Linked DNA regions of Homo sapiens. The protein of the gene in region 1 purifies or fractionates together with the protein of each later gene. This does not show direct contact. Each region holds a gene or a part of one and is shown on either strand. Other genes may lie near its edges. The genes, in order: INSL5, SEMA6A, PLXNA2 and UBR2.

The links.
Region 2: the proteins of INSL5 (region 1) and SEMA6A purify together in Homo sapiens (affinity purification with mass spectrometry; 2 studies listed by BioGRID and IntAct, with this or other methods). This does not show direct contact.
Region 3: the proteins of INSL5 (region 1) and PLXNA2 purify together in Homo sapiens (affinity purification with mass spectrometry; 2 studies listed by BioGRID and IntAct, with this or other methods). This does not show direct contact.
Region 4: the proteins of INSL5 (region 1) and UBR2 purify together in Homo sapiens (affinity purification with mass spectrometry; 2 studies listed by BioGRID and IntAct, with this or other methods). This does not show direct contact.

What each region holds. Positions count from the first base shown.
Region 1 is NC_000001.11:66,798,018-66,805,734, forward strand, and holds the start of INSL5 (insulin-like peptide INSL5 precursor), read right to left. Parts: upstream 3,260-7,717; 5' UTR 3,205-3,259; coding exon 3,030-3,204; intron 229-3,029; coding exon 1-228.
Region 2 is NC_000005.10:116,564,414-116,572,104, forward strand, and holds part of SEMA6A (semaphorin-6A isoform 2 precursor), read right to left. Parts: intron 1-7,691. UniProt on the Homo sapiens protein: Cell surface receptor for PLXNA2 that plays an important role in cell-cell signaling. Required for normal granule cell migration in the developing cerebellum.
Region 3 is NC_000001.11:208,240,944-208,248,523, reverse strand, and holds the start of PLXNA2 (plexin-A2 precursor), read left to right. Parts: upstream 1-4,139; 5' UTR 4,140-4,881; intron 4,882-7,580. UniProt on the Homo sapiens protein: Coreceptor for SEMA3A and SEMA6A. Necessary for signaling by SEMA6A and class 3 semaphorins and subsequent remodeling of the cytoskeleton. Plays a role in axon guidance, invasive growth and cell migration.
Region 4 is NC_000006.12:42,671,663-42,679,353, reverse strand, and holds part of UBR2 (E3 ubiquitin-protein ligase UBR2), read right to left. Parts: intron 5,564-7,691; coding exon 5,467-5,563; intron 5,229-5,466; coding exon 5,161-5,228; intron 3,299-5,160; coding exon 3,163-3,298; intron 2,572-3,162; coding exon 2,481-2,571; intron 816-2,480; coding exon 685-815; intron 1-684. UniProt on the Homo sapiens protein: E3 ubiquitin-protein ligase which is a component of the N-end rule pathway.

The DNA.
Region 1 (7,717 bases):
AAAGAGCACTCAAATCAGTCATGGAACAGCCATCAGTGCAACACAAAGTTTGTAAATCTTGTCTTGACATCACTGAATGCTTCTTTGACTTCCAAAGCTCTTCAGTGGGCATCTGTCCACCCCAAAGACGGTCTTCCCCTGAGGCATCCACCTTCGGAAGGTTTTGCGCTGGATTTTCCTCAGAAAACTCACGTTTATGTGGGAGCTGGAAGGAGTTTCCTGTCTCAGCTGTATGGAAGAGAAAAAAATAATACATCCTTAGACAGCTCCTACAAAGAAGGCAGCAACCACATTCCACTCCTGGGGAAATGAACTGGATCCCTAAAATGAAATAGAATCATACACATAATTTTTTAAAATGTTGGCCTGGTTTCAGAGAGATTAGACATTTTGGGGAGAGCACAGTCATCTCCACTGTCCTCATTTTACAGAGGCAGAAACTTGAGTGCAAAGATGAGGAGTGACAGTCAGTGTTGCTCAGCTAGTCGGGACTTGACTTCTTTTACTCGCTACCTCTGCTGGATGACCAGCAGCTTCCAATATTAGTTATGTGCTATAAACAAAAAACACATAAACAAAAAAAAACCCTGTGTATGCCCTGCAATCTCGATCAGTAAAGAAGGAAATGGAGATTTAAACCTCTATATCTGAAAATAAAAAGTGAAATTCACAGTTTTTGCCTAAGTGTTGTTTCCAAAGTTCATATATAAGCTTCTCTCACTTTAATTTAGTTCAAATTGACTTATCAATGCCTTAGCACACCAGCAGGCACCATGAAAAACTAGGTGAACAGATGCTGGTTGGTAAACCAGTAATTGATCAGATAAATAATGTGTGGGAAAACACTGAAAATCTGAGAAAGATTGAATAATAAGTAGTATGATTTCAGTGATGTCCAACAGAGCTAGCCTTATAGATATCCATTCCACTCCCCTATGTGTTTCAGAGATATCCCAAATGTATTTTTATAGTGCATTTTGGTTTGCTATTACAGAGATTGTTGTAAATCCTGGTAAATTATGCTTACTCTCTTAAGATTAAAAACCCATATAATTTTTGTTAGCAACTAGTCATATGAACTTCAATATTAAAGTGGTACTGAAAATGGAAAATACATGCTTTTTCAACACATTAGCCCACCCAAAGATGAACAGTTTAGGTCATTTTCTAAAAGGTTTTTATTACCAACATCATTTTAAATTAAACTGAAACCTTAACAATCATACATATAGTCGCAACATTTATTATGTAATCACATTTTTCCTTTTTAACTTTTTAGTATAAAACATAGCAAATACAACCAATTATTAAAATACACTCTTAAGCAAGGCACAGAAAGACAAACACCACATGATCTCACTGATATGTGGAATCTAAAAACGTCAAACTCAAAAATGTATAGCGGAGAACGATGGTTATCAGAGGGTGAGGGTGAGGGGGATGGTTGGGGAAGAGATGGTCAAGAGTACAGAATTTCCATTAGAAGGAATAATTTCAAGAAGTCTATTGTACAACATGGTGACTATAGTTAATAAAAATGCATTGTATTCCTGAAATTGCTAAAAGAGTAGATTTCAAGTGTCCTCATCACAAAAACATAAGTATGTGAGGTAATGCATATGTTAATTAGCTTGATTTAGCTATTCCACATGTATATTGTATGTATACCTATTTCAAAACAATATGTTGTACACAATAAATGTATATAATTTTTACCAATTAAAAAAATAATTTTTTAAATAGGATTTTCAGCCATGCCCAGTGGCTTATGCCTGTAATCCCAGTGCTCTGGGAGGCCGAGACGGAAGATTGCTTGAAGCCAGGAGTTTGAGACCAGCCTGGGCAACATTGCAAGACCCCACCTCTACAAAATATTTAAAAATTAGCCAGATGTGGTGGCACACACCTGTAGTCCTACCTACTCAAGAGGCTGAGGTGTGAGGATCACTTGAGTGCAGGGGTTTGAGGCTTCAGTGAGCTATGATTGTGCCAGCCTGGGTGAGAGGGCAAGACCCTGTCTCCAATCAAATAAATAAATAAATAAATAAAAATCTAAAAATAGGATTTTAAATAAATTCTACCTCATACTTTAATATGGAATTAACAGAAAGAATTTCAGTCAAATTTTTAAGTTAGTTGAATTGAATAATAAAGAAATATAGTGAAGTCAGCCGCTTCACCGTTTCTGAAAGACATTTGGTTCATTTCTTCCTTCAAAATCCTGATCAGACAATTCCTACTACTAGAATTCCCACCCTGCTTCCCCACCACCTTCCATAATCCCCAAATCCTTCAGGGCCTCTGTCAGTAACCACCACCTCCATGATGCTGTCACCTATTACAAAATAGGTGACATTTTGTAATAGGTGACATTTTGTAACATTCTCTTTCCCACCCGAGACTCAGTATGGAATTAGTAAAGACCTTGGCTCTTGAAGCCAGATAGACCCAGTTTCCTACCTAACCACATTTTCACCAGCTGGGAGAAGAATTTTCTTCTTGGTAAAATGATAAATGGTGGTAATTTTGCTTGCTTCCCAGGATCCTTATCAGAAAGCTGAATGAAATGTTGCACATGTAACTTCCCAGCACTTAAAAGTGCTCAATTAAGGTCAGCTTCTTTCCTTGCATCCATATTTAACAACTGCCGGAATTCTAACTTATTATATTGTACAATTATTCATGAGTGAAAGTCTTGCTACTTCAACACGCTCCTTGAAATCACATGCTTCGCCATAGCCTCCAAAGTACCTTCCACAGATGCTGAGCCCATTGAAGTAGTCATGCGATTAAATGATTTCAAGCAGGGGACTAAAAAATGAGGTAGTTATTTTTTGAAAGGTAGCATGCTCATCACTTTCCCAAGCCAAATTCAGTATATTTTGATAATTAATCCCTTAAATTGACATAAAAAATGCCTCAACAGTACTTAGAGAAACACTTAATAAAATAATGGTTTAAAACACAGCTTGAAAAAATAAAAGAGACATGTGAAAGGAAAATAGAGGAGACACATGAGTTACTGTTACCTTGCTGAGCTTGAGGGATCCCCTCCTGATGCCTTCTCCACCTGGAGCTAGCACAGATATAGATGACTGTCCGTATGTATTCTAGCCCACAGAGTCTCACAGACTCCTTGCTCCGCACTTCTGAGATGGCAAATAGGACAGAGAATAAAAACAGAGTGAAAATGGAGCCCTTCATTTTGCTGAGGACTGAATGTGAATCTGATATGGTAAATATAGTCAAATCAAATTCTGGAGTGACTGTCACTCTCTTGACCAATTTATACTAACTTTCCTGACATTTCATTGGTCAGAACCTCATTTTTACAATATTTGCTAAGCACATAGGGTTACACAGTAAAGTTTTGAAAATGCGGTTTTATGAGTATTGCCAGCTATTCAGTCTCTCCTTAATACCATCAACGCATCTGTGAGATGATAAAAACAGATGCCCTCTTGGAAGGCATTATGGAAAACTCACGGACTTTGAAAGTTGCCAAGAATGAGTTTCACTCTCAGCCTTGCTACTTACTGAGTGACATAAGGCAAGTTTTAAACTTTTTGAGTTGAGGCAAAGCCTGGTGGCTAACACCTGTAACCCCAGCACTTTGGGAGGCCAACACAGATGGATCACTTGAGGCAAGGAGTTCAAGACCAGCCTGGGCAACATAGTGAGACCTCCATCTCTACAAAAAATTTAAAAATTACTCAGGCACAATGGCATACTTGAGCCCAGGAGTTCAAGGTTACAATGAGCCATGACAGTGCCACTGTACTCCAGCCTGGGTGACAGTGAAACCGTGTCTCTAAAAAACAAACAAACAAACAAGTAAACAAAAAAACCTTTTGAACCTCAATAACCATATCTCTGGAATGGGAAGACCCATCTCACAGGGGTTTTTTTGAATATTGAAAGCAATATGAATGTCAGAACAATGGGATATCACACTTAAGTAGGCAATTTCTTATGTCCTGAGTTTGAATCCTGGCCGTTGCTGTTGCCTGGCTGTTACTTACCAGATCTAGACTCTTAAGCAAGTTTTTAAGGCATCCTTCTTTGTAAAATAGTGTTGATGATTGTAACTACCTCATAGGTCTAATGTGATAACATGCGTCCCACTTGGTACAATAAACAGCTAATAGGCCAGGCGCAGTGGCTCACGCCTGTAATCCCAGCACTTTGGGAGGCCGAGGCAGGTGGATCACGAGGTCAGGAGATCGAGATCATCCTGGCTAACACGGTGAAACCCTGTCTCTACTAAAAATACAAAACATTAGCCAGGCGTGGTGGTGGGCACCCGTAGTCCCAGACACTCAGGAGGCTGAGGCAGGAGAATGGCATGAACCCGGGAGGTGGAGCTTGCAGTGAGCTGAGATCACGCCACTGCCCTCCAACCTGGGCGACAGAGCGAGACTCTGTCTCAAAACAAAAACAAACAAACAAACAAACAAACAAAAACAAAAAAAAACAGCTACTAATTATTAGCTGCTTCTCCTCTCACCATCAGAATAGAAGACTAGAAAAGATAACTTCAGAATTCAGAAGATTTTATCTGACTAGGATCTTGTTATCCTTCACCTATGACCTAGGTACACTTTTCTCAACACACGTATTTATGATAATAGAAAGCTAAGTCCATATCCCAAATAGCTAAATAATGAAATTTCTCTTTTGGTAAAACCTCTGAAAGCACTAGCTCTTGCAAAGGTCTTACCTAAACTGAGAATCCCAGAGTTTGGGATCTTAAAGAACTGTTGACTCAGGTTTTAGCAAGTTGAACAAATAATGGTTCAGTTGATTCTGTGAAATCCTTGTCTGTGATTCCTGGTTGGAAAAAAATTGCTAAGTCTGTGGCCATGATCATATCATTTGTACTTCTTGTGAAATCACTGTTCTTCTGTAGGGAAGCTGGAAAATACAACAAAATAATCTGTTATCTAATTGAAAGCATTCTTTGCTGTAAAAAATAAAAATTATTTCTAAGAGTCTTGCTTTCTCCATTTCTTTGGCTGTAGTGTGAAGAATGGATTAAGAAAGGCAAGACTTGAGAAAGGAAAAACAGAAAAAGGCTGTTTCAATAATTTAGATATGATGGTGGCCTAAACTAAGGCCATGGAAGAGAGATAGGACACATGTGTATTCAAAATATAGAAGGGCTTGGTACTGACTGGGTATCAGGGGCAATGGAGAGAAAGATGTCAAATATGATACCTCGATTTCTGGCTTGTTCAACTGGGAGGTAGGGCGGTCATTTGCTAAGAAAGGGACCAAAGAAGCAGAAATGGTTCTGTCATCAGAGAAAGCTACTCCATCTTTGGATGGGTCAAAATCAGCATCTTTCATCAACTCCAGAGGGACGTCTGTATTACCATGCTTAGCACATCCACAACATAACAGCTATTGAGCCATGTATTACCAAACTTCTTCCCTTCTTTGGAGATTTATAGTGCATATCTTGACAATGCCAGTTTTAACATAGCACTGCAGTAGATCTATCATCAGTGGCTATGGATTGGGCTTCTGCACAACCCCAGGGATATTCAGCCAAGGGACGATCCCTACCTTGGATGTCAGATGGACTCTGGCATGATCCTGCTATCACCACACTTGATGCCCCTAGGTGCAAAGTAGTCCCCTCTTCTACCAGCTCTTAATACCTCATTAGGGCTCATTTAGTTTGGGATGGAAGGCTGGCAATACTTGAGCTCATTCTGTGACCTAATGGAGGCAAGTTAGACAGCCAAGTAGCTACCCAGATGAAAAAGCTCATGACAATAATAAAAGCCCTAGATGTGAAGCCTGAAATTTTGGGGCTTATTTTCCCCATTTGTATATTGAGAGGGTTGGATTTAATTGTTAAAAGTCTTCTCTGCACTTGAAATTATCAGTCTTGCTATAATTGTCTGATTATGTTACTCCCACCTCACAAACCTTCAGTGGCTCACCATTACCTCCAGAAGACAATCCAAACAATATCACATTTAATGCTTTCCACTCAGGTACCCAAACATCACTTTTTTCACATACCTCAAGGTCCATGAAAGGCTAACCAACTGAAAAGGAATCTTTCCATCTTTTGAGTAACCACAGTTTCTTTTTTGCACCTCTCACAGGAGCACTTAATCCCTTTCATTTGGAGATGGACGTGATTTTTCTTCCTCATTCTGGTCTGTAACTCAGTTTACTATCTATGTGGCAATTATTATGTGTCTTATTTCAGGTTTCCTTCGGATAGCTCTAACAAAATACCAGAGACTGGGTAGCTTATAACAACAGAAATTTATTTCTCACGGTTCTGGAGCCTGGGAAGTCCAAGATGAAGGTGACAGCATGGTCCGGATTCTAGGACCTCTCTCTGTGTCCTTTCACAGAAGATGGGGCAAGCTGGCTCTCTGGGGTCTCTAAGGTCATCAATCCCATTCATGAGGGTCCTGCCTTCATGACCTATTCACCTCCCAAAGACCCCATCTCCTAATTTCATCACCTTGGGGGTTAGGATTTCAACATAGGAGACACAATATGTAATTTTCCGCTCTGAGTTTTAATTTCTCCATCTATGAGGAGATAATAATCTGTGTTTTATAATGTTATTGTGAAGCAAAATGAGTTAACACAAGTACAGCACCTAGAATAATATATAATTCAATAAATAATAAATTAACAATGTCATGAACAAGGGATTAGAAAATATTATTTTTGGTTGGGACTAGCTACTATGGATGACTCTTCTGTATAACTCTTAATCTCAAAACCATCCATAAATTTGCACTGCTGTCGTCTTTTTCTTTCCTCCCTTCCTTCATCCTTTCCTTGCCTTCTTCTTTCCTTTCATCCTTCCACAAACAAGTTCTAATAAAGAAAGGTCTTATGGTACTGTTTCTTAAAGTGTTTTCTTCAGAACATGAGTCTTTGCAGATGGTCTTTGAATATTTTTTAAAAAGGATTCCATGATAGTAGTCTCTTTCTTTGAGATTAATAATGCCTACTAATATAGTAGAGCCCAGAGAAGACTTATAGTTATGAAATTTCTTTAACTTTGTTTAATTCAATGTTTTCACAACTTATTTGATGTTGGAAATAACTCCATTGTGAAATTGATTAACATCTGGGATTGCTGTGAATTTCTAGAGTAGACGTATCTCTAGTTCTCCTCTGTCCTGACACATGGTAGGGTTGTATTTCTCTGCTCTTTAAAATTGGGCAACACCATGTGGCATATTTTGGCAAATAAAATGTGAGTGGATGTGACATATGTCACTTCTGCCTGAAATTTAAGGATCGGTGTATGATCCTCCAGTTCTCCCTCTTCCTGGCTGTGGTTACCAACAACATTCCTGATGTGGGAACCTAATCACTGAGTCAGAACAATATGGAGCATAACTGCCCACTGATCTGTAATGAATATGTAATATGAATGGAAAAGAAACCAGCCCTCAGAAATAATGCCGCATATCTACAACTATCTGATCTTTGACAAACCTGAGAAAAACAAGCAATGGGGAAAGGATTCCCTATTTAATAAATGGTGCTGGGAAAACTGGCTAGCCATATGTAGAAAGCTGAAACTGGATCCCTTCCTTACACCTTATACAAAAATCAATTCAAGATGGATTAAAGACTTAAACGTTAGACCTAAAACCATAAAAACCCTAGAAGAAAACCTAGGCATTACCATTCAGGACATAGGCATGGGCAAGGACTTCATGTCTAA
Region 2 (7,691 bases), on another chromosome or scaffold:
TTAATCTACAAAGGAATTAAATTGCTTGGCTTAGACTGGTAGGAGTCCTTGAAAGTCCACTTGAGAAATGGAAACTGAAACATGAAGTGTACCACTATCCGTTGCACAAGGCCAAATTTGCCAACCAGAAGCAAGCTGTGTTCTGCATCACACGTGAAGCACATAAATCGCCAGAATGTGTGTATGTGTATCACCCTCTTACAGCAATTTACTCCCCAAATCCTTTCTTGACCAAGTCACACAATATATACACCACTGGAGAACATTCTCTAATCAACTCTAAAGTCACAAACCTAAAAAAAAATAGCAAAATATTGAAATTATTAAATAATTGAAAAATGTTCATATACTATTCACGAGTTGACAAAGCAGTAGACCTACAGTCCAAAATGTATGAGCCTTTTGTTGCAAAATACAGTAAAATGGTCTCTAGCTCCTTAGCAATGAGTGTCAAGTGTAAAAAAGGAAAGGTTAAACCTGAAGTAAAGCTCTACATGTTTCCATTGCCAAAATAACACACGGCACACAGCAATCATGATGTCATTTTATTTATTTAGTAATCTGCAAAGCCAAAGCCAAATTATGGAGCAGAAATTTTAAGCAAAGTCATGAATGGCCTCATTTACCTCCACATTTGTGAATAGTCTTAATGAAGAGTTTGCGTCCCTTTGCTTTCTTGTTGAAATATGAAAGTGACATCAGCCTCTGTACTGTATTTTTATTTATTTATTTTTTTTGCCAGCAAGACTGAGCAAGAGGCAAATCCTGGATTAAATACCAGCTGGATGTGCACATAACAAGGTCCAGGGAGACACTCTCAGAAGTTGCCTCTTTTAATCCAACACTGAATTATACGAGAAGCGGTTTTCAGTCTTTCAGAGCACAACTGTCAAAATAACTGCAAGGCTTGCAAGCCCTAGTATATCTCAAACCTTTCCCAAGACACCCCAACACTATGTGAGGCACTGAAACTATGGCAACCGAATAAGAAAGCAGCCTCCATGATTAACAGATGAAGATCCCAGCGACAGTGTCTAGCTAGGGCCATCATTCATGATACAAGAAGAATTAGCACAGAATCCGTCTCGAAAACCATTAACAAGTATTCTTATAAAAATCAACTCCACTGCCATTCTGCCAATATACTTGAGTTTAGAATGCTACAAACAATTTGGTTTCTATTTATCGCTCACTATGCAGGAATGAGAATGTTCTTAGAAACTCAGATGCTCATGTTTTTAAAATAGTGAAAGGCTTAATAGAATGGTTTTCCACCTGGGTATTTTAGGCCTAAGAACAAATACATTGAAAAACCAAAATATGTGAATGAAATCAAGTGGCTCTCTGGGTAGAAAGGAGGAGGGACAGTTGTTGAATTGTTTTGAGTGTTTTTTTGTGGAATGCAATTTTTTGTAAAGCATTCCATTTTCAGGAAAGGAACGTTTCCATTCACCAGCTCAATCAGTATTCTCTCAGTTTCCTCATTCAAGGACAGTAGGAGTCTGGGGGAGGGGCGGGGAAGTGCTGAAGTCGCTGCAATATTAATGAAAAGACTGAATACTTTTCTTTAAAAAACGAATCAGGAATAGGAACAGGGAAAGAAGAATGGATCTATCACAGCTTGTCTGTAAAACCCTCATAGAACATTAAAACATAATTAATACAATCTTTATTTCTTCGTAGTCTCTAACAATGTTTATTTTCCAATGGCATGTTTTCATTGTATTTAATGCCAGATCCTGTTCTGTTCTATAAATGCTTCTAATCAAATCATGGCCAAAGGCTGGTCTTTGAAGCGTAGAGGGGCAGAAGGGCTAAGAAAGGCGTAAACAGCACCAACTTTAGAGCTTCTTCTGCTAAATTTTTTTAATTGGCATGGATTCTTTGAATTTAATGTTCTACAGATGACAATTATAGGTTAGTTGGAAATTCCTAGAAAGCACCTAGGAATATTAAAAGAAAGCTTCAAGTCTAAAGGCTGCATGAGGAAGTATCTATTACTAACAATGCTTTCTAAGCAAAAGTCACCATACTGGCTGCTAAGAAGGATCTGAAACTTCGGTCCTTGCAGCATGTTAATTACTGATTTATCTCACACTCTTTCCATTCTGTTTCCACTTACAGAGTTTGAGAACATTTTATTTCCTAGTTGAAAATAACTGTAACTCTAAGCCATGGAGGCATTCCTGGAAAACATAATGGTAGCAGGGAATTGTGGTGATAACATCAATTTATTTCCCCTTCTGCTGTGCCTTTTAGAAGTCAGATTTTTCTCACTGATAAGAACTTGTATGACTATCATTTGAATCAAATTTCAGGTTTTGTAGTAGTGTGTCTGTCAGCAGAATAACTGCTATCTCTACTGGGGTCAGCCAATTATTTCCTACCTTTGGTGTGGAAGGCAGTAGTTTGCTTTTGCTCCCAAATTGATTTCAAGCTTGGCCAGGGAAGAGTGACCTGGCAGATGCATGCCCAACCTGAAGACCCTCTTGCAGAAGTCCTAGCCACAACCTCCTCAAGGGTTCCAATCAGCAGCCGAGTTTCTCTCCTAAGACAGGTGTGGTCCTTGGGAATTCAACTCATCCCTAAAATTGTCATTATGAGTTGCTTTCAGATTCTAAATGTAGGTGCAGAGTGTACATTTTATTATTAAAATGTTAATAAGTGATAGCTATCATTTTTCAAAAACTATCCCTTGGGCTCCTATTTGATATAAGGCTCTGCTTGTTATTATTATTATTTTTTATATATAGTGGTTTTTTCCTTCCATGTTTTGGGTGTGATATTTCAAATTCCAAAGTTTCCCTGTTTCCTGTTTCCCTGCAAGTGATGTATTCACATGCTTCTCAACTTAAAACCCATGACATTATGGCCTGTTTATGGTATGAATGTTTGTTTCTAGTCCAAAGGTTGTTTTCTTTTGCATCATCTCTTTATATTACAGATTCGTAGCCATTTCCTTTTCTACTATTTCCCCTGCCCCCCAGAATAAAAGTACTATCTGCTTTTTCAAAATCCATTCCTAGGACATTTTTCGTAACTACTGTTACTCAAGTAAAAATAATACCTTATGTTGAATGACTGCTTGTTGTGTGCCCGGCATTGTGACATGCATTTTACAGATGTTAGCACATTTATTCTTCTCAAAACCATAACATTATCATCATACTAGCACTTTGCAAATGAAAACTGAAGGAGAAAGGAAACTGGCATAAAGTCACACTGTTGGTAAATGGCAAAACAAATCCACGTGCATTGTCTGTCAAAAAAGCATGACCTCCGCAATGCCTCTAGAGTTGTCCACTACCTTCCCTCCAACGGTCCCTTCACATTTATTAACCTCACGCCACAAGATCTAACGAATTCGGCCTTGTTATGACAAAGATGGAAACTTCTACTAGTCCTGGTTCACCCTGACATATTAATCGTTACACTGATTTGAACTATTTCAGAATTTAACTGAGCAAAAACAATTATCTTACTTTTAAACTAATTCCTGGCAGAATGGTACTCCTATGACCTTGCCTGATTTAATGATAATGTTGAAAGCAATGTTTCCTTGACATGGTAGGTGTTCTAATTAATAAAGTTGCTATCCATGCTCTAGGTGAACTGTACAATTTCAATGAATTTGAACATATTATTTAGTTGCATAATGTGATTTACATTAAAACTACATGAACAGTGTATATTCTACCAAAAATAATTTAGAAGATGAAGTAGGATCTCTGTTATATCCAGGGTCCAGAGTGGGAAAGAGGGGGTTAACATCAAACTTCCCAAATTTCCACAATGCGTGTAATATTTCACTAAATACATTCACATTCATGATTTCGTATTATTTTCCCAGTAATCCTATAAGTTAGGAAGAATAGGTTTACTATTTATAATTTTCAATTAAAATAATGCAGCCACAGAGAAGTTAAGTGACTTGTCCAAGGTAGTGAGAGTCTGGAACTCAGGTCTTCTTGTCTCCAAGTGCAGGATCCTCAACAGCAGATATACTGTACGGGTACAGGGCAGAAACATGGGTTAATAAAGTATGCTGTATTCTCCTGATAGAAAGTTGAATTTTAAAACTACTATTAGCAAACTCCAAAAAAACATGAACGTTCTATGGCCAGTGGTTAGAATGCAGAACAAATGAGGCCAGGGTCAAAAGCTCAATCCCCACAAATGCTGGCTGTCTTCTTAGCTCTGTTTCTTGGCAAGTTGATTTTACCTAACTCAGACTCCCTCCAGCTACAACCAGGTGTCTCACAGATGTGTGCTCTTGGACACAGGAGGGGACTGGGTGAGAATGTGGGAATGAACAGGCTCCAATCCATCACTACCACTGGAAAAACAACACAGTGAATGTTCCACTAATGATGCATGAGCCATACCACCTATGTGCTTGGAAGATTGTACACACACACACACACACACACACACATTCATGCATGAAGTACACACACACACATGCATGCATGAAGTATCTCATTTGATAAAAACATGATATAGAAAAACAAAGGCAGACAAAATAGATAAAATAAAGACTAGTTGTTTGCAAAAATGATTCACTGTTTATTCATTCAGCAAACACTTGTTATGGATGGCCCATGATGTGCCAGGCACAGCTTTAGGTGCCAGAGTGAATAAAGCCTAAAAATGTCTATCCTTATGGCATTATGTTCTAGTGGAAGACAGAAAATCAACAAGGACAACATATAGTTTGTCAGACTGTGAAAAATGCTAAGAAAAAAATAAGGACTGCCAAGAGGTGGGGAGTGCTGTGGGAAAGAGTAAAGTAAATAAGGGGATCAAAAGGCTTCACTGAGAAAGTGACATTTGAACAGAGACCTGAAGAATATGAGAAGCAAATCATGTAGCTATCTGGGGAAAGAACCATCCCAAGGCATGAAAGAGTAAGTCCTTGCAAAGGACCCCAAGTATATGCCATGCTTGACAGATTCAAGCAAGCCCAAGGGGTGGAGGTCAGAGAGGTTGGAACCTGAGTGCAGATCATGTGGGGCTGCAAAGGCCATAGGAAGGACTTTGGCTTTTATTGGAAGAAGATGGGAAAACATCTGAGCAAAGTAGTGATCTGATCTGGTTTAGTTTAAAAAAAAAATCACTGCTGTGTTTTGGCTGCTGTGTTGAGAAATGGGCAGAGGCAGGAATGCTAGTGGGGAAGCTGGCATGAAAACCTAGCAGGAGAGGACCATGGCTTGGCCAATTTGAGGGCCACAGAGGAGGAACACCTGAAGGAAGCCTGCAGGTATTCCAAAGGTGGAGCCAACAGCATTGCAGCCACAATGGATGTAGGTGTGACAGAGAAGCTTCAAGGAGAACTAAATTTGGGGGCCGGCAACTCAAAGAATGGAGTTGCCATTTACTATGATGGAGAAGACTATGAGAAAGGCAGATATGGGGGAGAAAGATACAGAATTAGGTTTTTTAAACCTAAGTTTGAGATGTCTATTCAGGAGGAGCTACCTACCCACTAAGCATTGGTTATTTGTGAGGTCCAGGAGAGAGGTCTAAGCTGAAGAGGTTATTTGGGAATCATCTGTGTATTATGGTTTTATATGATACCCTCTATTGGTGTAAATGGAATTATTGTAATAAAGTTTTGCAAGAGCTCATCTGTTTCACAAAGCAAGATACCCTTGTGTATAGACTATATGCAGTAGTCCCATGGTGAGAAGTTGTCCTGAACTCCTCCCCTTGAGGTTTGTGTGGTATGACATCTCATTTGCCCATTTCGAAGGGATTAAATGCCTCCCTCCTTTCTCTATCTTACCATATCCCCAAGAGGCAACCATGTGGTCGCCAGCAGAGAATAGCTCAGTTGCTCTTGCAGCACATTTTAAAGCAGATGAGAAAAGCCTTCACGCTGAAATAGAAATATCTCAGAGAAAACTTGGCTCCAAGGCACCCCAAGAGAGTGGGGGGGGTTCCTGATATGGGAGGGCCCAGCAGAACGCCTCAAGGCATCACCTTCCTCAACATGCACAAATGTGGCTGCCATAACACAAAGCTTCTATATAAATATGTCAAGGAGCACTCCTCTACTCTAGGAGGACAGAAAATTGTCTAAACCTAAAGAAGGGTGTGGAGAGGGGCAGTGCAGAGATAGGCTTTCCTAGGCATTGCCTTACACAAATGGCAGATGCTTAATTAAAGCATTTGCAATTAGCTTAGCTTGTTCTGTGATTCCTTCCTGCAAACAAATAAGATGGAGAGACTATATTAGCTCTTGGCAATCTAGTTCTAAAAAAACTTTCATCCCATCATCACTCTTTTGTCCTGTTCTGAAAAGCGCTGAACCACAATGTACACAGAATAAACTATCTGACTTAACTCCTGGTTCAAAATAGTATTTTTCCTTCCATTTCATATAGGAGTGCAACTACCCATTTACTTTTAAAGCATAACTACTTATTTTGAATTTAATACAAGTTCTTAATTTGGATGCCTCATTTTTATTTGGTGAAGATAACAGTCTTCCTAATTCTTGCTACACTTCTGATTCAACACATTAGACTTCACTAGTGCAATGTTACCCGCCTACTCAAAATACAACTGCTATATGTGTTTAATGTTGGAAAAAGCATTTACTAGATTTTGGAAGAACTTGAGGGGTGTGTGTTGTGTGTAAATAAAAAGGTGCACTTATTGCCGCCTTATCATAACCACTCACTTGAAGGCATATATTTTTTTTTTCACTGTAGGGAAAATAAAGAAGTCCACTTTAAGTGGACAAACATGAACCATGTGTGACTATTTATTTCATTCATTCGACATTTACTTGAGTGTTCTATACTGGTTCTTATAAAATTTTTACCTATTTAAGCTTAGTTGTTATGTCCAATAAGTATATTCAGCTGATGGCTCCTCAGAAATGATTTTCGGTATCTGCTTAACATTTACATATGTGGATTATATGCGTTATTGAAAATGTAGCACATCTCTAAAAGGTGATAGCTGCAAAACCTAACATATGGGGAAGGTTGTCACCCACAAACACTGTACATCAGAAACATAAAGTAGAATGCTTCTTTACATCAAGTTGAAAAATGACTCATAACCAAAAGTAAGATTTTAAATTTGATGTTCGTTCTTTTCTGCTTTAAACTGGTTTGCAAAGTGCCTCATTCAAGAACGTCCCAAAACCAAAATAATAACAGGGAGTAAGGGTTACTCAAGATTCAAATAAAAGTTACCATACAAACAAGCATGGGTAAACCAAATTCAAATAGCTAGTGCAATTATTTTTTAATAGATAGTTTAGGTTAATAGGTGGAGACATAGTTCTGCCACTGTATTTAAGGTTAGGTTAATAATTAACTTTGGTGCCTGGAGTAGTTTAATCAAAGCTTACTGTAAATCATAAAACTGCTCCATGTAGACTAAACACAGCATTAAAAAGTCATACAAAATTCTTGCAATCTTGACCGCTGGTAGCCATTTGGGTACGGTATAAAAAAGTGTAGAGTATTTTTAGTCAGAATTAAACATAGGCATCTTTACTTTGGGGAGAAAACATAATTAAATAATTAATTAAACCACCAGTCCTCCCCGCCATCACTGTAGCATACCACAGACTTGATGCCCAAGATGTGTCCACCAGGGGAAGGACGACGAACAATTTCAGGACTAAAGAAAGACAAGGCAAAGGCACTCGACCTTCCCATCCTGGCAAGACT
Region 3 (7,580 bases), about 140 Mb from region 1:
GGGAGGGGAGGGGAGGGAAGGGTGACGTCTTTATGAATGGTACTGAGAACCCCGGAGCAGATGCCCTGTTCCTGTGTCCTGGGCTGCCAGCCCCGTTGCCTGGGCTGAGACCCACCACTCTGGCATCCCGCAGTCTCTCTCTTCCATTCACAGGACTTGGCCCACACACTCCAGGCTGGCCTGTCTGGACCAATCCCTTTGTTCCTAACAATGTAGGGGTTAAGGGGAGGCTGCTCTGCTGCTGGGGTTGCCTGACAGCATCTGCTGGATGAAGGTGAGGTACCTGGTAGGGAGACAGAAGGGACCACATTCCTGCCTGTCTATAGTGGCAAGCCTGGGCTCAGGGCAAGTGAAAGATGACATGCATCTTAGAGCAGAGACCAATCAACTTGGTGGTGGCATCAGTGGTCTCAGCTTTGGGAGCCAGGTACAAACCGGGCAACAGCCAGTGCACCATCCAAACATTGCCCTCTGACACTGGCAAGCAGGAGCACCCTTGGCTCCCAAGCACAGGTCCAGGCACACATCCTCCTGAGCCCACCTCCCAGCCGACTCAAGGCACCGTAAATATATGCATGCACACACTCTCAGGCAGCATTCCCATGCTAAACACTGATAGCTTGCCACCCCCCGCCTCTAAAGGGAACAGACTTGATGCTGAAAGCCTGCCAAAGTGTGGCTGGCTTCCAGCACCAAAAATACCTCCTGTGATCCGAGGGGCTACTGTACTGGCATCTATTTGTGGGGCTGGAGCTGCTGCTGTGACATAAAGGACTTCCCCTAGGGATGGGCTAGTTGCCCATTTGGGCCTGTGCTCCCCAAAGTCTAAGAGCTTGCTTTCCAGGGCCAAGGCCTGCTCCCAGCCTGGAAAATGCAGGTGGCAGCATCTTAGCCAAACCTGCCTTCCACAGGAGAAATATTCATTCTTCACAGGAAACATTCTGTGGCATTCCAGAATGTTGGTGCCCTGTCCTCTCCCACTTCTCTCATTCTCTTGCTTAAGTAACCCATCTAGTTACTTAGCTTGCTTCTTTGACAAGCAAAGAAGAGGCCTGGGGCCTGGAACAAGAATGCAGAAGTGACAAATGACTTTCAAGGTGAGGTTCCAGGAATATCTTGACTAGGGAAGGTAGGTAGGTTGGGGTGAGTGGAGAACCCTGTTGAGTGTGCTATGATTTTCCAATGATGAGGATTTGGCATAAGATAAACATTTCCCCATTCATTCATTTGTTCATTCATTTGATAAATATTTGTTAAATATCGACAGCCTGCTCACAAATATGTTGCACTACATCTATCCTTCCAGATGGAAATGAGGACGAACTACAAGGCCCTGACAGAGGACTGGTCAGTCCCAAGGGGCTGTGGGCCTGATATCAGATGGACAGAATGAGGAAGAATATAGTGAAGGGCAGAAACATACAAGAAAACCAGAAACCTCAGAAAGAGATAGATCTGAGGTTATAGAATCTGTAGGGTTATTGCCATGCTTTCTTTAAAAATATGTGCCAAAGCAGTAATTATGGACTGTATATAGTTCCATTAAAGGAAGAAATTTAGTAAATTTGCTCTTCATAAATATTTGCGTAATAAATGAATGAATACCCAGATCAAAGGGAGAAGGTTAACGAGCAGATGTAAAGACTAGAGGTTCAGGTATACCGCTGTTGCCTCAGAGGATGTCAAATCTAAATACGAACCATGAACCCAAGGTTTTGGTTTTTTTTTAAATTCTCAGAGCATGTTATGGTAATTAGATGTTTAGCTAATAAGATCCATATTTGTTCTAGCCTATTAGGACTAAATATAACAACAATCTTTCCATTTTGATGATACTATTACTTCTTCCAACACGCTTACATATATCTATTTTAATTCCCCCAGTTGTCTGGAGAGTGAAGACAGAAATTCCCATCTTACAGATGGACAAACTGTGGCCTAGAGAAGTTAGAGGTACTTCATCCACTGTACCTCCCAGTAGATCAAGTTAGCGCTCTTTCCATTGCTATGCTGACCACAGGCTCTTCCATAGTCTCACAGGACTCAGATCTTAGACCCTGTTCAGTGGCAATGTGGAATCTGGATGGCGTCGTGCCACCCTGTCAGCCACAATGTGTCCTCCCGCCTGTGTTCCCTCTTTCTCTCCCTTTATTCAGGAAAGAGAGGGGAGGTGTGGGGATAAAAGATGGGGTGAGTGGAAGAGTCTGTTTCATTTTATGCTTCCTTGCTCTTCATTCTAAGATTTATTTCTGGACCACAGGAGTGGAGGGTGGCATATGAGAAAATTATTTCAATTGTATCATAATCTTCCCAAGGTGTGATTAAATTGAGGCATAGGGAAGAGAGGTGACCTCTTCCAGAGTCAGACACCACTTGATTTAGAACCAGAGGGCCCTAATTTTCAGCTTGGAGCTTTATCAATTAGATATCTCCAATCCTACCACGGCTGGTCTTAGGTGTAGCTGGCCAAACTCCATGAACAAATGGAGGAAGTGTTCCAAAATCTTCTAGCATCTTCTTCAAATCATCTTTTTTAATAAATTGTGGTTTAGATTCAGTCTACCCAGAGATAAAACGATCGACTAGTCTGTCTGCATGGGGAGACAAGATCTACTTATAAAAATAAATAAATAATAACACAGGGTAAATATGATAATTTATTGGTGTGTTACCAACAATGAATGCTAAAGAAGTTTGAAGGAAAGAACAGGTATGGATCAGGCAACACAGCTTAGACAGATTCTTTGTGGTCCCACAGGACAAAACTAGCAGTAGCCAGTGAAAGTTACAGGAACACAAATTTCAGCTAATTACAATGAAGAACTTTTGAAGAATTCGCTGATTTCTGCAGATGTTGGAGTAAAGCCTAGATCCCCCAGTCCTGTGTTGAATGTGCGATTGTTCGAGATGACTGGTTAGTCTAGATTTCCTTTTCTTCTTCCTCTCTCTCTCTCTTTTCTCCGGCTCCCTTTCTTCATCCTTCCCTCCCTTCGTTTCTTCTGCCGCTACTGCTCTAAGAATTTGGTGCAATTGCTTTTAGGTATTCGCAGTGATTTTTGTTGTTTTTTAGATTTATACCACTGAGGACTGTGGCCACGAGAGGGCAGTAGAGGAAGCTTATCAGAATACTTGGACAGGAGTAAACTCGTGTGCGCTCTAATCGCGAGCAGGGACTACGCAGATCCTGCGAACTCGCTGGGGTCCAGCTTGCAGGCCGCTTCCGGAAAGCCGTGTCTAGAGGCTGCGGAGTTACTGAGACTGTGTGGCGAGGAATCAGTGGCCTTGAGGGCACCGAGACATTGTCATCCAGAATCCCGAAACCTCTCACCTTAGGTTATTAAAATAAGTTATCTTATTGCCACCCCTCTGATTACCCTGCCAGAAAGATTCTCTGAATTGGATATAGAAAGCTCTTCTCCCGTCCCCAATGCCCCCATGCAAGTCGGGACTTACCAGATGCCCAGGATCCCTATCAGGGCTGGAAGTTTGAGATTCAATTCAGAGCAAGGTTCATCTTCTCATTGCAATAATAATAATAACAACAACTTCAAGCCTTATTTGACAGCTTGTTGGCCTTTTTCTTTTTTTAATTTACAAGAAGAGGAAATTTGCTCCCACAAATTCCAAGACTCTAGTCTCAACCCTACCAGACAAGCCCCGTTCCTCCCCACTCACCCCTCACTCAAATTACAGATGAAGAGGGAGGTGTGCAGGATGTGTGCGGTGACAGGTGATGCGAATGGGGGGGATTCCCTGTCCCTACTGCCCTCACCCACTCTTCCTGTGTTCTGAGCTCCCCCCTAACCCCAACGCTAGACCTTCTATTCCCCCGGGGGCCAAGCCAGCTGGGCTCGCAAGGCCCGACTCGAATTCCCGGGCCCTGGCAGCATTTTCCTTGCCCCCTTGGCTACTTAAGGTGGCCGATGGGTCCGGGCTGAGCTGGGCGCAGGACAGGCAGCCGAGCGGCCTCCGGATGCCAAACCTGCTTCTCCTTTGTTGACAGCTTGCGGAGGAGGAAGTCCGCGCGGGCGGGGGAGGGGGCAGGGTGCTGGCGGTGGCGGGCGGTGCCAGCAGCGGGCGCGGCCCCAGCCCGGGCGGACGCGGCCGGCGGGGAGGGGGTTAACGCGCGCGGCCTCTATGATAATGAGCTGCATGGTGAAATAGGGAGGCCGGCGCTCAGGGCTCCTCCGCCGCCGCCGCCGCCGCCGCCGCCGCCGCCACCGCGGGAGCCAGAGCTGCCGGGAGGAGCGGCATCCGCGCCAGACTGGAGCGGGAGGGCGGCGGAGGGCAGTTGCTGGGAATTTTTCAGCCGAGAGGGCGAGCGATCCGGAGAGAGACCCCGAGAGCTTGGGAGCGGTAGGGCGTGCGAGCGCCGCAGCCAGCGGAGCAAACCTCGAAATAGATCTGGAAAGCCAGGCTCCCGGAGGAAATGGGACTGTGAACGAACCGGAGAGCAAGAAGGGAAGGAAGCGCCGGGATTGCTGATGTCAGAGGAGCCCGGAAAGTCGCGCTGGAAAAATCTGAAGACAGCCGGGGCTCTGCTTCTTCCTCAGGAGAGACACCGCCGGCCGCCCCCACACGCCCCCTCGGCGCCTCCGGGTGCCCCCTGAGAGCCGGCGACAGCGCCCAGCCGGGCTGCTGCGGGGCGACGGAGGACTGAGGGGCGCGCGGAGCGGAGACCGAGGAGCGACTTCAGGAATACAGATAAGTGTCTGGTGGCTTGACGTGGATTTTAATGAATTTGGACTCCATGTGGATTTGGTCGTCTCCCTGATTCCGAGCTGCGGGCAGGGAGAGGGGCCTCGCGCCGCCCTCAGCAGCCGGCGGCGGCCGAGGTAGACCGAGCGGGGACGGAAGGACAGACCGACGTCGCCGAGCTGGGTAAGCGGCGGCTGGGCCGGGCGCTCGGAGTCGGCAGCGCCCTCCGCCCTCTCCCCACAGGCGCGCACACCCGTGGCGGCTTCTCCCGCGCCCGCCTCTTTGGGGTCCCGGCCCCAGAAGACCCGGCTTGGCCGCGGCGGGCGAGTCCCCGCGTGGGCTCGGCCACTTTCGCGGGCTGGAGCGCGGCGTGCGCGCGATCGCAGGCTCACTGGAGCCGCTGCCTCCCGCCGAGGGCTTCCCGGCCGGCAGCCCGCCGGCTTCCCGAATGCGGGCTGAGGGCGGCAGCAGCGCTCCGCGGCGCGCCTCCACCGCGCACCTGCCGGCGCTCTGCGGCTTTGGGGAGCTCGGGGCGGCAAGGCTGTCCTGAGAGCTGGAGCCCAAAGAGGGCCTCGGTGGCACCAGCGAGACAGCCCAAAGCCACACTGGCCAGCGATCGATTTGGGGGCGTTCACTCCAGTGCCGGGGTCCCTGGTGGCCGCCGGCTCTCCCTTCCGATCGGGGACTGGAGATCAGGGGAATGGGAAAACATCATTTGCGCGGGTTCCATAAGGCTCAGGGAGAGATTCCTAGGCACTGAATGGGTCTAAGTGTTTCATCTCCCGGGGCTCCCTTTGCGGTGTATCGCCCAGCAGGGGTCCAGCCCCTTAGTTTGAGCACCACAGGAGTGCTGGGGGTTGAAATGGGAGTTTGCTTAGGGTCCCAGAGGCTCCTTATGAACCATTTGAGAATGTTTCCTTCCATGTGCTCTTTCTTGCCCCACCCCACAAGTGAGGTAGGGATCCTAGAAAATTCTAGCCCTTTTTATCCATCCCACAGGTAGTCTCTATAATGCCAATCATGGTCTAGATGCCCAGAGAGTCACCAGAAACTACCATTTTAGATCCCCGAAAAAAGTCCACCTGTTTGGAATGACCCTTGCCCTAGTGGGAGCTACCTACTCAAACTCAGCTCTGCTCAGGAGGGATAGAAATAATGGTGGGGAGGAAGTTGGATAAAAGATTTGGGGCTCTAGGTCAGTAAGGGTCTAGAAATGAGAGCCCCATGAAGTGGGCAATGGAAATCTGAACAGGTCCCCTGTAGGAATCTTAGAGTGACAGTGGCACACCAGTAGAAAGTGCACAAGGGACATGAAGGCAGCATCAGTTTGAGGGGACTGGGACTGCCAGTCATAGCTTGAGGCAGTCACTTGGGGGCCCATCAGTTTGGAAGAACCCACAGAAATTTGGGGGCACATTCATTTCCTTCCATTCACGCGCACAGTGGACAAGGCTTATGAGCGGCAGGCCAAGATGAGTATCTTGGCTGGCCTGGGCTGGAGGCTTTGAGAGCAGGAGTCAGGTTTAGCTCTCCCCTCTCCCCACACAATAGCAGTCTCCCTCCTTTGCTGGGCTTCTTTCCCAGATCTTGAAACTTCACTCTTCCCTCTGGGTTGGCTTTGGATTCTGGGGCCTTCTACTGATTGACAGAGCCCCAGGAAGAGATAACCTTGGCTGGAGGAATTCAGCTATTCCTAACTGAAATGCACAACTTTTATGCAATAACCCCAGAAAGCTCCCAGAGTTGCTTGCAGCCCTCTCCCCTCTGACCTCCAGGCAAGAAAAGAGAAGAATTCATTAACTTCCCTCTCTCTTCACGGAGCACCATTTGAACTAATTACCTGGGATCTCTCCTTGGTGGTGGCCTGGAGGCTGAAGGGGCAGTGAAGAGAAAGGGTAGGGAACCAAGGAAACAGTGGAATCTGTCATAGCGAGGTTGTTTTTCATTCCCCTTCTTCCACCTGGCATCACCACCAACCCCTCCTCATTCCAGAACTTGCCCCTGCTGCCACCAACCAGCATTACCTAAAGGAGCTATTTCCCTCCACTCCGCAGCCGATCGTCTTCAGGGACCTGCTGATAAAGGGAGGGCAATGCAGATTACCCTCTCTGCTCCCTCACTGTCCTCAGCAAATTGCATTAGGATGGGGGCAAACTGGCTTGCAAAGCAGTTAAATGGAAATGACATTTGGAGCGATGTGCAGGGAAGATGCTGAGGAGCAGCAGTGGTAAAGTACCAGGAGATCTCTATCCAGGGACCATGAGTCTGCCAAGGAAATCCCAGCTGGTCCTTCTTTTTGGCAGGGCATAAGGACAGGGGTCCCTCAAAGCCTGGAGCAGGACAGGGGGGCTGGCTAGCTTTTCAGCCCAAGTCTAAATGAAGAGTATGGCAGTGTCTTATGTCCATCGCCCAAAACCATGTCATTACAAGGTTGGTGGCCCCCCTTTCAGAGCTAGTCTGAATACCTATCCCTGTCTTCAGAGCACCAGGGAACATTCACCCTGCAACTCTCTTGACCATCAAAAGCTGCAGATGCGGTGAATGTAAAAGTTCCTTCACCATCTGTTTTACTGAAGTCTGCACTTAAAATGAGGTTAAAAAGAAAGCCCTCAAAGAACAGCTACCTGTTTCCTAGGTCCCTTTCCCATTTACCAATACTTCTGCTTACTCAGCTAATCTTTATTTCATGGGCAGGTTACAAGAAAACATAGGAACAGGAGGGGAAACCAGTGACATGGTTAAATATACAAGGCAGCAGCTGACAGCAGCCTAAACTCACCACTTTAGGTGCTATGAAATATTTATGGTGCTGGAGTTGTCACTGTTTGGGGGTTTTATAGTTTCTATCCTACCTCATTTTCTATGATTGCCTCCCTAAGATA
Region 4 (7,691 bases), on another chromosome or scaffold:
AGACACAGATTTAAATACCAACTCTAATCATCACTGCAAATAATCTGGAAGACTAAACTCTTTTATATGGTTCCTAGGCAACTAGCTAAATGGAAATGCCAGTGGACAAACTTTCAGAGAGTAGCACTGCATGCAGGTACTCTACGGCCAGTGCCAGGCACTGTGGGATACAGAGATACAGTCAAGTCCACATTCATACTACTTTTATGAAATGAATCAAAACAGAACATGGAAAACAACTATGAAAGAGCAAATCAATTCCCAGATTAAAATCAGATTTATGTGCAATTATGGGTATTCTAAATTTTAATGCTATGCATGTTTCAAGTTAAAAATCACTTGAAATTGTCAGTTTTCACCTTTTCAAATCTGAGGAACCTTGTTTATGAATAATACATAACTGAACATTTTAACATCTGAAAGCAAAACTATGATCTTTACGGGAGAAGGGCTTTGCAGGTGTAAAAACATTTACACAGAAGTTTAACAGTCATTTACTGAGATCCAAATAAATGGAGACATATGCATAAACATACATTTTATGCTATAAATGTGTACATCACCATAGTCAATAAGCTATTCTTTGAACTTTTAGTCAATTTTCATTTTTGCAAGTGATCTTTATATTTGCTGGAGTAAAGGATTACTAACTCTCCCTACGTTTTGAAAGAAAGTATAAATTACCTTGAATGTCGGGTGGGGAAGGAACTCCATTTAAGTAATGAAAAAATAAAGCAGAACACTTCAGGAAAGGCATGATTCCAGCTCTGACACTCCTCCACAGATGCCAGCCGGATGGTATTTCTTTCAAGGCACTAAAAAAGAAAAAAAAGATTATTGGGAAATCTACTAAGAAAAGGTCACTGTACTTATAGTGTGAAAACAGACTTGACTGTCATTTGGAACTGATGGCATGTATGCTTAAAAGTTGTGAGTTAACAGGCAAGTGGGTGTGTGTTATTATAGGATGCCAGGTGTAAGTGGTGACACAGCCTCCAATGCTGTTATTAAATTTTTTGAGACGGAGTCTCGCTCTGTCGCCCAGGCTGGAGTGCAGTGGCACAATCTCGGCTCACTGCAAGCTCTGCCTCCTGGGTTCACGCCATTCTCCTGCCTCAGCCTCCTGAGTAGCTGGGACTACAGGTGCCTGCCACCACGCCCGGCTAATTTTTTGTATTTTTAGTAGAGACGGGGTTTCGCTGTGTTAGCCAGGATGGTCTCGATCTCCTGATCTTGTGATCTGCCCGCCTTGGCCTCCCAAAGTGCTGGGATTACAGGTGTGATGTTATTAAAATTTATAAAAGTAACATAGTGACATAAAGAGAAAATGTGGAAAATGAAAAGTTGTCCAGGCTGGACTCAAACTACTGGGCTCCAGCAATCCTCCCACCTCAGCCTCCTGAGCAGCTGGGACTACAGGCACATGCCACTGCACCCAGCTCCTAGGAGCCATATTTTAAATAGATTTATAATATTTTGGAACACATTCATCACTATATCAAACTATTCCCCTGCAAACACTTAGATTGCTTTCAATTATTTGCTAATATAAATAATATCAGAGTGTACATCTTTTTCTTTTTGAGACAGGGTCTCACTCTTTTGTCCAGTCTGGAGTGCAGTGGTGTGATGGCTCACTGCAGCCTTCACCTGCCTGGGTGATCTGACTACCTCAACCTCCTGAGAAGATAGAACCACAGGCACATGCTACCATGCCTGGCTAATTTTTGTATTTTTTGGTAGAGACAGGGTTTCACCATGTTGGCCAGGCTGGTCTCAAATGCCTGGGCTCAAGCAATCTGCCAGCCTCATTCTCCCAAAGTGCTGGGATTATAGGGGTGAGACACCGTGCCTGGCTGGAGTGTCCATCTTTATATGCCTATATGTTTTTTTTCTATATGTTGAATTATTTTGTTAATGTAGGTTCTCAGAAATGGGATAGTCAAAAAACAGACATTTTTATAGGTTCCTGACTACAGATTCTTGACATATATACTGTTGAAAGCTAAGCAAACTACTGAATTGCTATTTGTAGCAAATCATGACTCTAACCATACATGGAATTCTAATAATTTCATTTTATTCCTGCTACTACTGAATATTACCTTAAAAATAAATTATGCCAATTTAACTTGCAGTTTTAAATTCCCATTCTGAATGAGACAACATAAGTTTTAGAGTATCAACTTTCCAAAGTACATTTGATCTATCCTCTAGTCTCTGCCAGATCCCTGAGCAAATGAAGGGTTCCACAGCCAAATAAATGTGGGAAGCTCTGCATATTATCACCTTTCTCCCAGATTTCCAATTATGTTAGTATATGAATAGTTCAGAAAGGCTCTGCAGATCACTCCACGTCTTATTTTAAAAACATGTCAACAGACAACAAATTCCCCTAATTAACAAACGAATTCCTTTCTCATGCTATCATCATCTAGCAATATTTAGGGAAATGCGTTATGTAAAGATAACTAACTCACCTTCCCGTATACTGGTGAAGTGTTTTATACAAAGCAAGAACTGCTGATTCTTCTTCACAAGGGGGATTTTCTTGATCCATGCCATTCTCTTCTGAAAGATAAGGAAATACTAGTACTCTGTATTTTCCAATTAAGTGTTATCAAAAGGACTGAAGACATTAAGCATGCAAATATATTCATAAACTCACATATAACATGAAGTATTCCTAGAAAACATGCAAAATTGTAATCCCTCAAGTGGGAGCACAGTATTGATCTCAATCAAACCAAACAGCCAGCTGGCATGTTTTAAGTAAAATCAAATAAATATAGTCTTAAAGTGTATGAAAAACAAGAATTTTGAATGCAAAACGTAATTTAATGATGAATTCATGTGGGCATTAACAAACATGTAAGTTAAAACAAAATTGGCATTCTAAAACATAAGATTCTAAAAGATTTAATTACTATTCTACACAAATATTACTGAATGTATGAAATTAAAACTAGAAACATTCACATTACTAGGAAATTTTAAGAGGAGAAAGAAATGTTTCAAAACTTTTCATATGAAGATACACAGAAAAAAACAGCCTTATTCATGTGTTATTCTCATCCAAATACCTTTTCCTCTAATACTTTTTTTAAAACTCAGAAAACTCAAGTATTTCCTTCAAGAAACTGACAAAAAGGCAAGAGTTACCTGTACATGAGGTAAGTAAGATCTGTATGATGTGTGCCATAGTAACCAGATGGAAAATGTGAAGGTCTCCAGTGCCAAGGCTGATCCCTGAAAAATCCTGACACTGCAACGCAGGAAATGCAAGCACCAAGCCCACCTAGGCACCAAACACAGGACATCAGACAGATCGCCTTTCCTTTCACAGCTAAGCAAATTTCCATCTTCTTACTTTTACTTTTATTTTGATTTTTTTTTTGAGACAGAGTCTTACTCTGTTGCCCAGGCTGGAGTGCAATGGCGCAACCTCGGTTCACTGCAACATCCACCTCCTGGGTTCAAGCGATTCTCCTGCCTCAGCCTCCTGAGTAGCTGGGATTACAGGCGTGCAACATCATGCCCGACTTTTTGTATTTTTAGTAGAGATGAGGTTTTGCCACGTTGGCCAGGCTGGTCTCGAACTCCTGACCTCAGGTAATCCGCCCACCTCGGCCTCCCAAAGTGCTGGGATTACAGGCGTGAGCCACCGCGCCTGGTCACATTTCCATTTTCTTACTGTGATCCCTCCTGAGTTCAGCTCCTCCCTTTAAGAAATCTTTGTTCTTAAAGAAAGGGCATCCATGTTGGAAAATCCAATAGGACTGGCTACATGAAATGACTTGAGTTACAGGACTCTTGATGGGCACTATGATTTCATTAATCCAGTGGGTCCTCTATACATAGCTTATTGTTAACAAAAACAGTATCTGAACTCTCTCCAGGACTGTAGGCAGTTGAAAAAACATGGGTTTTGGACCCATAAATATCTAGATATGAATCCTACCTCCTCCTCTTATGAGCTGTTTTACACAAATTAATATCTCTGATCAGGCCTCAGTTTCCCTATTGGTAAACTAAAGACAATATGTTACATGTAAATTGTAGAGATGTAAGTGTGAACGTATGTAAAAGCTGGCAGGTACACAAATGCTAGCTCTGTTGGCCTCCTGCTGTCTGCATGGCAGTATAAGTGGTGGTGGTTTTAGTTGCAGCAATGAGAACAGTAATAGCCGCATTTATTAGGAATATATTGCTCTAAGTGTGTTACATGGATTAACTCACTGAGTTCTGACATAGTCATATAAAGTAGGTACTAACCAACTTAAAGGGGCAGAATCTGAGGTCCAGAGAATAAAGGCACAGCACTCGGGGCTGCTGGGTGTGGCAGTACACTCTGTACCCTGTGCAAGGGAACCCAGTTGAGGTAGGGCTGAAATTTGGCTACCCACTATTTGGACAGCTGTGTGTCTTAGCACTAGGATGTCCTGGCTCAGAGGACATACCTTTCCCTGAATTATAAGGGGCTCTCTGCTGCTAAGTAGTGTGACCACAGGGCTGTATCTGCCAGATTTTCGAAAATGTACAAAAGCACTGTATGGGCCAGCAGCAGTGCTTCTGTTGCTGTTTTTTTTTTTTTGGATGGGGTCTTGCTCTGTCATCCAGGCTGGAGTGCAGTCATGCAATCTTGGTCACTGCAACCTCCGCCTCCTGGGTTCAAGTGATTCTCCTGTCTCACTTTCCTGAGTAGCTGAGATTACAGGCATGTGCCACCACGCCCAGCTAATTTTTTGTATTTTTAGTAGAGATAGGGTTTCACCATGTTGGCAAGGCTGCTCTCAAACTCCTGACCTCAAGTGATCTGGGGTGAGCCTCGCAAAGTGCTGGGATTACAGGCATGAGTCACCACACCTGACCCGTTGCTGGTGTTTTTATCTCTTTACAGGTTAAAAGCACAGAGAGGTTAAAATACTAACCTCAGCCATAAAGCAAAATAAGAGTCAGAGGACGTCTCGATAACCAGGTCAAGTCTCTCAACTAGGTTCCTAAATATTTTCTTTTTGAGGTTTCTCATAAAAGAATTATACTCAGAAGGGGTAAGGAAATCACATAACTCCTTCCTGTCTGCCACTACACTGCTCACCAAACCTAAGGTAAAGTTACATAGTATGACGTAGAAGTCCAAACAAACTGCACAATACCCACCAATAAATGAAACATGTCAATATCTAATATGCATGGAAGTTCCTCATGGCTGTCATTAGGCACCAGTGCTACAGATTTAAAGAGAAATACATTAGCATATTTCATATGCCAACATGTTAAAATGCATATAATCTGCTTTAAATTTATCTTCTTGCAAGACACATGAGAATTTATAAGCTAGAGCTTATATATAAGAAAACCAGTACTACTAAATATTTAATTCATTACTGAGAGAAGCTGTACCATTAAAAACAAAATTTCAGAGGATGAAAAATTACAACATGTTATAAATGTATTAATACTCACATGCAAAAAGTTTACAAAAATGTCCTTGCACCACTGAAACTGATGCCACTGTCCAGTGTGCTGCGGCAAATCTCGTCAATGACCTAAGACAGTCATCCTAAAATAAACCAACGCAATTAACAAAAAACAAAAATGCAAAGCAGTTCTCTTTCAGGAATGCTAGTTCAGAGCACAGCTGGATGCACAATGAAACTGCTCTAGATGGTATGGAACTAGATCTATGACATCTCAATGACATGCCTCTAACACAGGATAAATGGAATGGGAAATGTCTAAGTGTGTGCTGAATAAATGAAATCTATCTCTTTGCCACCATGTTGCTGGTTTTCTCTGGAAAAGAAAAGAATATAGAATATACGCATCTGACAGAAAGCAAGGGACACTCCCAAGATGCCAGTGCAGGCCGGGTGTGGTGGCTCACACCTGTAATCCCAGCTACTCGAGAGGCTGAGGAAGGAGAATCACTTGAACCCTGGAGGCAGAGGTTGCAGTGAGCTGAGATCACACCACTGCACTCCAGCCTGGAAAACAGAGCGAGACTCTATCTCAAAAAACAAATAAACAAGCCAAGATGCGGATGCAGTATTTCTCTATGTTTATCCTAAACAGATACCCTAAAACACATATCTCTTATGTTTATCCTAAAGAGATCCTCTAAAATGTGGATACTCTTCCGTAAAATGTAGAGTATCCTAAAGAGATACTCCAAATATTGGGGAAACTGTCTAAGAAGATGGTGGTACAAATGAGGGTGCCTGCAGCTATTAAAAATTGTTATGAGGACTAAGTAGCAGTAATAAGAAAACTCTTGATTTAAAGAATACAGCAGAAACAAAGCTACATGTGAGTACCAATTGTAATCAAGCATAAATATGCTAATGGAAAAAGATGGGTATGTGATAAGTTGATGACTTTTTTCTTCCTGCTTGTTTTTTCATTTTCCAAATTTTCTGTAATGTTTGGTTCAATAAATATTGAGGTCCTACTATATACACTAGGTCTTGGTTCTGAAGATCTTCAAATAAAACCCATTCTCCCCCTCCTGCTCTCAAAGAGCTTAAAGTCCTGGGGTGGGAAAGGAAGAAAGTGGGGAAGGAGGCAGGCATCACAGATGAGAGGTCTCTAACTCACAGTACATGGTTCAGAGGGCTTTCTAAGGGAAGGGAAAGCTTGAACAGCATCTGAAAGAGTAGCAGTCTGCTTAGGGTACTCTAGGCAGAGGAAATGGAATGTGCAAAGGCATGGGAACTAGCATTGAGGAACTGGCAGTGATTCTACAAGTCTGGACCACAGGGGTGGGAACTGGCAGGAGGTGATAATGGAGAAATAGGTTAAGAAGTTTGTAAAAGTATGAAGAATATGAACAGGATTGCTTTTGAGGAGCCCCTCTAATAACGTATTAGAGAAGAGTGAGATTCTGGGTAAAAACTGCTATGATAATCTAGGCAAGAAATAATATGGGGCTGAACCAAACAAGTAGAAGAAGGAATGGTGAGAATTTGTCAGACTCTGCTGACCAACTGAATGTGAATGCCCAGGCTAAAAAATGTATCTAGGCCGGGAATGGTGGCTCATGCCTGCAATCTCAGCATTTTGGGAGGCCGAGATGGGCAGATCACCTGAGGTCAGGAGTTTGAGACCAGCCTGGCCAACATGGTGAAACCCCATCTCTACTAAAAACGCAAAAATTAGCTGGGCACGGTGGCATGCACCTGTAATCCCAGCTACTCGGGAGGCTGAGACAGGAGAGTCGCTTGAACCCAGGATGCAGAGGCTGCAGTGGGCCGAGATTGTGCCATTGCACTCCAGTCTGAGCAACAGAGTGAGACTCCATCTCAAAAAAAAAAGACTTCAATTTTCTGGTTTCTCCTGGATGAATAGTGGTGAAATTAACTAAAACAGGGACTATAGGAAGAAAAATTAATTTGGATTGAATTTTAGGTATGTGTAGGAGATCCAGGTTAAAAAAATAGGCAGAGATAACCTACACCTAAGATAAAGATCTGGGTTGGAGATACACAGGTGGGGATCATTTGGATATAACTGAAATCAGAGGCATAGATGGGGCTGACCAGGGAAGAGTATTAGATGGCAGAACTCTGGAGGTTTAAAAATGACAACTGCAGGATGGAGGAGGGAGAGTGGGCTGAGAGGCAGGAGCCACAGAGGCAGAAAGAAAGCCAAGAGTGTCACAGAAATTAAGGGAAAATTGAGTTTCAGAATGA